Linked DNA regions of Homo sapiens: region 1 is linked to region 2. The links come from fine-mapping of genetic effects on gene expression. Tissue or cell type: sigmoid colon. Region 2 holds a variant in brackets; the other region holds the start of a gene. All regions are shown on one strand. Distances are from middle to middle.

Region 1 (2,721 bases), 150 kb before region 2:
GGCGGCTGCCGCCCCCGGCGCCCGAGGTCGCGCCGGCCCGCACCTCGTCGTAGAGGCTCGCTCCCTCGGGGGACTCCGCCGAGCTGCTCAGCGTAGGGCTGGCGGGCACTTTGGCGACGTTGTAGCGTCTCAGCAGCTGCGACGGCTGCTGCCCCGGCGGCTGCAGGAGCTGCTGGTGCGGTGGTTCCTCGTCCTCCTCGTCCGGCTCCTGTTTGATCTGCAGCTGCAGCTCGTCGTCGTCGTCGTCGTCGTCGTCGTCCTCATCCAGAAACACGCACTTGACCGTCTTGCCCGCGCCGCCGCCGCCCGAGCCGCTCACGCGCAGGCTGCCCAGCACGTAGTCGTCGCCCGCGCCCCCGTAGTCCCCGGACTGGGCCGCCTTGCCCGCGCCCGCCTTGGCGCCCGCGGCCGCGGGGGCCTTGAGCTTGCCGCATTTCTTGCTGGAGCCCTTGGAGGTCTTGGCACCGCCCGCGCCTCCGCCCGCGCTCCCGCCGCCGCCGCCGGCCGCGCTCTTCTCTGGGCTCTGGCTGGCGCTGGGCTTGGCCGAGGGGTCCATTTTGGGCTTTTTCCGGGGCCGGTACTTGTAGTCGGGGTAGTCGGCCATGTGCTTGAGCCGCAGCCGCTCCGCCTCCCGGATGAACGGGATCTTCTCGCTGTCCTTCAGCATTTTCCAGCGCTTGCCCAGCCTCTTGGAGATCTCGGCGTTGTGCATGTCCGGAGACTGCTCCATGATCTTCCTGCGTTCGATCTTGGACCATACCATGAACGCGTTCATCGGCCGCTTGATGTGGCCCGACGCCGTCTTGCACCAGTCTGGGTCGCTCTCGTCCAGGGCCACCGGGCTGCAAGCCATGAATTCGCCCTCCTCCGTGTCCAGCGCCTCCCGGGGCAGGTTGCTCTCCGCTTCCAAGCTCTCCGCCTGCTGCACCATGATCCGCTGCAGGGCTGGACGCTCCAACCCGGGCCGCTGGGTCTCGTGCGGAGGTCCCCCTCCCCCTCCCACCCCTCCACCTTCCTGGGCAAGTTGCAAAGTCCTCGGCACCCCGCTTTCGCGGCTCCCCCCCTCCCCCCCGCCCCCCCTTCCAGGCTGCACACAGCGGCTGTGGTGGCTTCGGCGACGACGGCCGCCGGCGCGGTGGGAGCTGCGGTCGCGACAGGAGAGGCGGTGGCGACGGCGGTCGAGGCAGCCCGGGACCCCTCTCTCCGGCTCGTGGCTCCTACCGCAAGCGCCGGACCCCGAGCTCTCCCAGGCGCGCGCGCTCCTTCTGCAAAAAGTTGAGGTCTCTCTCTCAACTAGTTATCAGGGTGTCATATGGGTGACATCACTCCCCCAGCTAGCCAATGGCTGGGGGCCGGCTCCGCCCATCTTCCTTTATTAACTCGGAGGCCCCGCCCCTCCACCCCGCCCTCCGGGCTGCTTTGCAAAGATGGGGGTGGGGGGAGAGGAGGCATGTCTAGAAATATGTTATTTTTAAAAAATCCGCGTGTGTGCACAGATGCGCCTGTTCCCGGGATGCTCGGAAGCGGCGCGCGGCACCACGGGGAGCGGGCGGCCCGGGGCGAACCGGGATGGTTCGGGCGCCGGCGCTAACCGAGGACCGGGTCCCGGGAGAGGCCCCGCGCGCCTTTGTGCCCAGTCCCCGGGAGGCCCGACGGCGACAGCGGACGGCGCGCGCTCACTCCCCGGGTGCACACACTCGGGCACGCGCCCAGCCTGAGACGGCGGCCTCCGCCCGGCTCGCGGTCAGCCGCGCCCGGCCTGCCCCGGGGTGGGCGCAGCTGCTCCCCGGCGAGCCCCTCGCGGGGCTCGGCCGCTCCCCCGGGTCGCCGCCCCGAGCCCGCCCGGTAGCCCCGCGGCGGCCCTGGCCGACGGAAGGTGGCGCTTGAAGACAGCAACCTTCCCGGCACGTGGGCTCTGCTCTCCTTTTCCCTTTCTCCCTTTTTGTAAGGCAAAGAAATCAATTTAAAGCTCGAGAGGCGGTGAGCTCCCTCCCCCGTTTTGCATTTTTCTGTTTTGTCCTTTTTCTCCGTCTGTTTTCCCTCCTCGGTGGTGTTTGGGGACGCGGCTGTGCGGGTTGGGCTGCGCCGCGCCCCCGCGCGCCCCGCCCCGGGCGGGGGCCGGAGTAACGGTCTGCGGGGCCCTCGGGTTCAAGCTGGCCACTCCCAGGGCTGGCTCCGGAGCGGGCTCTGGGTCCCGCAGGCTCCAGCAAGCCCGCGCCCCGCCCGGCGTCCCTGCGAGGGGCCCGGCGCCCTCCTTCCCTTCTCCCTCTGCTCCCCGCCCCTCCTCTCCCCGCCCCGTCCTCTCCCCGCCCCTCCGCCGCTCCTTTCTCCTTCCCAGGCCTCCTCTTCCTCTTTGTCCTTCCCCCATCCTCGGTCGCCAGCGCTTCTCCGGCAGCCTCGTCCTGAAATCGTGCGATTGTGAGCTAGAAGCCTTCTGGGTCACTCATAAACCAAAGAGAAAATAAGGTGCACTCGAGTTTCCCGTCTAAATATTTTCCCTGGAGATGGAAAGGTGCGCTGGCGGCCGGGGAGCCGCGACCTGGGGCGCGCTGGGCCTCGCAGAGCAGCCGCGGACCCCGGCGATCGTGCCGTGTTCGTCTCCTTTGTGTTTCTTTATTGAGTCCCTACTACCTCTACGGATATTCTGGGGGCAATTAAAGAAAATCACCGCTTCATAGGTATGGTCTGTCGCCACCCTCGCCTTCTCCACACCCCCCAGCA
Region 2 (2,839 bases):
TATTGTGAACAATAATTATGATGACAATTGTTTGCTAGGTTCACATCCTCAGACTCTTAGCTCAAAGATAAGCTTATCTGTAAACCTCAACTGTCCTTTTTAATTTTTATAATGTCTTCTTTTCCTCTGGAACGGAACTGGAAAAAGATTTCTGAGGACTCTTACAAGGAGAAAGGAAAAAAACAGGAAAAATAAATAGAAGAAAGAAAACATTAAAATAGTTGAGGCTGGGTTTTGTGTGTGTCTGGGGTTTGGGCTGGTGTGCCTGTTTTTTATTAGCTCTGCCCACAGCCCAGGGTTAACCTGGCAGCTCTCTGTGGAGTTGGCTGGCCTCTTTATTGCCACGTGCACCCACCAGCTGAGCCAAATCCCCGAATATGGAGCTATGGGTGTATAAAATCATACGTGGGTTTGGGGGCACTAGCCCTTTGCTCAAAGTAATGATGGATGCCTTAGCTTTGCAGTAATTTTAGTTGACTGGATCAGTTTTCATATGGAAATTTAATTTTCGATTTTCTTTGATTATTGCACTTAGGCATTTCAAAGGACACATTTATGTAAACCATTCTGAGTCTTTTCTAAGAAGCCAGCCCACAAACTTACCTTTTCTGTTATGGATAAAAGCAAAATCAGTTTTTTTTTTTTTTATTTAAAAACAACAGAGACATTGTAATTGTTTATATCAGTGTATTGTTTCTCCTAATTTTTATAATAATGTACTTATTGATCTCAATTATAAAGAAGTAACAATGGAGAGCTAACTCTATATATTTATATTGCGTTTTAAGGCAAAACAAACAAGCAAAAAACAGCAATCAAAAAACAGTCCATTTTACTAAGGCAAGAATCCTGGATTTATCAAAAGGAAGTAGGAGTTTCGACTCCCATCTCTACCGTATATGGCATTTCAGTTTTCTCACCTGCAAAATGGCAGCACTAGGTCTACTGTGGGGACTCAGTGAGAAAGGATGTCAAGCGTTGCGTACACGGCGAGGGCTCCGTATCTGCTACTACCTTTCTTTGACTTATCTGTACAAATTAATGATAGATTAAAGAATCCATCACTTAAACTTACTATGGTTCGTTGTCCTCCTCTGCTGTGCAGGTAATTTTTGCATCATCCAGTTTTAAAGTTTGTAAGCAGAGTTCTGTCCCATGGAGGGTACCTTTAAAAAATCAAACTGGACTGAGAAACACACCAGCAAGCAGACTCGTGCTCCAGTCTGGGCATAGCTCTTCAGC[C/A]CCCTTCTGAAAATATAAACACAAGCAGAAAACTCCCGCAGCCGCTGGAGCACTTGGATAAACACAGCAGCCCCCTCCCCGCCTCCCCTCCACCTCCCTCACCGCCTGTTTTTCCGGAAGTCTGTGAAGTTCAACAGTCTCTCCTTCAGACCTGCAGAGCAGGCAGGTTCTGCGTCCCACAGCTCCCTCCCCTGACCCTGGCCCCCGGGAGGCTAAATCTCCTCCCGGTGCAACACACTGGGGCCCTTCTGGGGTGAACTAAAGGGGACAAAGGAATTTCCCAAGCAGAAAGGACCCAAAGGTTACCTAAAGCAGCACGTCTCATCTTGGGGAGTCAGCTACTGTGAACTTGTCCGCAGGGATTTTTATAAAAGCGGTTTTATAAAATCCTTAAACTAGAAGGTGCTGGCTTCTCCTGCTGGGGGTTGGGGGTGTGCTGTCTGAGTTGTTTATCAGATGGTTTTGCCCTGGGTCAGCCATCGTTTTCACCCCATCCTTCTTGTGGTCAGTGACTGGGGTCAGGAGGTGTCTCTGGTTCTTGAGTAGTGTTTTTTCTCTTGTAAGTGAACTGGGTCCTATGAGGATTGAACCGGTGACCTCGCCTCCATTAGCACCAGGCTTTCATCACTGGAACTCACCAGCCCAGATGAACTAAACACACTCTGATGTGTGCTCTGCTGAGTTTGGAAAGCTGCTCTGTTTAAATTGCTGAGGGCCAGACCCCACGGCACACCTCAAGTTCACTCCCACACCCTCTTCTGCTGCGATTTGGGTAGCCTTGGAATTTTTATTGAATGTTCATTGTTAGGTGAAGCATGAAAAAAGAAACGCATGAGGCTATGTCCAGACATGGACGAAGAAGTGTACAAAGAGCAGCAAGTCCTTCCCCCAGCAGAGCTCAGGAGTAAAATGTAATGGGTCTGTGTGCTTTCTTCCTCTGATTTCAAAGAGCCTGCGGCTTGTAATGAGGCAAACCCTCAAAACCAGAGCATGCCCCATGCTAAAAGTATCAGGTCTTTTGATACCTGAGGGAATGAGTCCCCCCTTCTGCATGAGATGGGCTATATTATACACAGCTTGTTAAGTGTGTGACAGATCAGCTGGAGGGTAGACTTCTTGTGGGCTCCAGGCCTGCACATTGGCTAATAAACCAGCTCCATACACAAACAGCCTATTCCGGCACTCAGATGCCCTGGTTCATGTTTCAGCCTGCAGCCATTCTGAAGCCGACGTTTTCTGCAGGACGAGCAAGACCACGGCTGTGCATTTCCCTTCCAGACGCCAGCCTGCGCCAGATGTGGGGCCTTCATTTTCAGTGTAGCAAGGGTGTCTGCTGACCCCTCACCCCGTGTCTAATGAAAGATGGACTGTGCTGCGTTTTCTTATAGCAAATTCTATATTAGAAGACAGGAGATTTAAAAATTAATTCAAGATTAATTCAGGGATGACTGCACATGGAATTATTTGGCCAACTAATGAAAAATGAAATTTTCACTATAAAGAAGGAAAATTGTAGAAGTGTCCAATTTTAATCCCATTTCCCATAAAGAATTATCATGTCCCAAGACCTATCTTGGAACCCCAATTAATCACTGAA

Which allele goes with the higher level. Alleles are on the strand shown, and positions count from the first base shown. SD is a standard deviation of normalised expression in the study named.
In carriers of allele A in region 2, the expression in sigmoid colon of the gene that starts at base 1,269 in region 1 tends to be higher than with C alone (small effect, 0.19 SD a copy in GTEx).

The links. PIP is the estimated chance that this variant, and not a neighbour inherited with it, causes the effect.
Region 1: SOX11 starts here. The variant in region 2 is fine-mapped to the expression of SOX11 in sigmoid colon (GTEx, PIP above 0.99).

What each region holds. Positions count from the first base shown.
Region 1 is chr2:5,690,932-5,693,652 of GRCh38, reverse strand. SOX11 (SRY-box transcription factor 11) reads right to left here and starts at 1,269. Exons shown (of 1, transcript NM_003108.4): 1 at 1-1,269. The coding sequence starts at 931. It overlaps LINC01248 (long intergenic non-protein coding RNA 1248), which reads left to right and starts at 2,535. Exons shown (of 5, transcript NR_110580.1): 1 at 2,535-2,678. It overlaps LOC124908052 (a long non-coding RNA gene), which reads left to right and starts at 2,690. Exons shown (of 2, transcript XR_007088653.1): 1 at 2,690-2,721.
Region 2 is chr2:5,538,536-5,541,374 of GRCh38, reverse strand. It overlaps LOC107985842 (a long non-coding RNA gene), which reads right to left and starts at 1,275. Exons shown (of 4, transcript XR_001739261.2): 1 at 1,076-1,275. The variant C/A (reference allele first, on the strand shown) is at 1,243.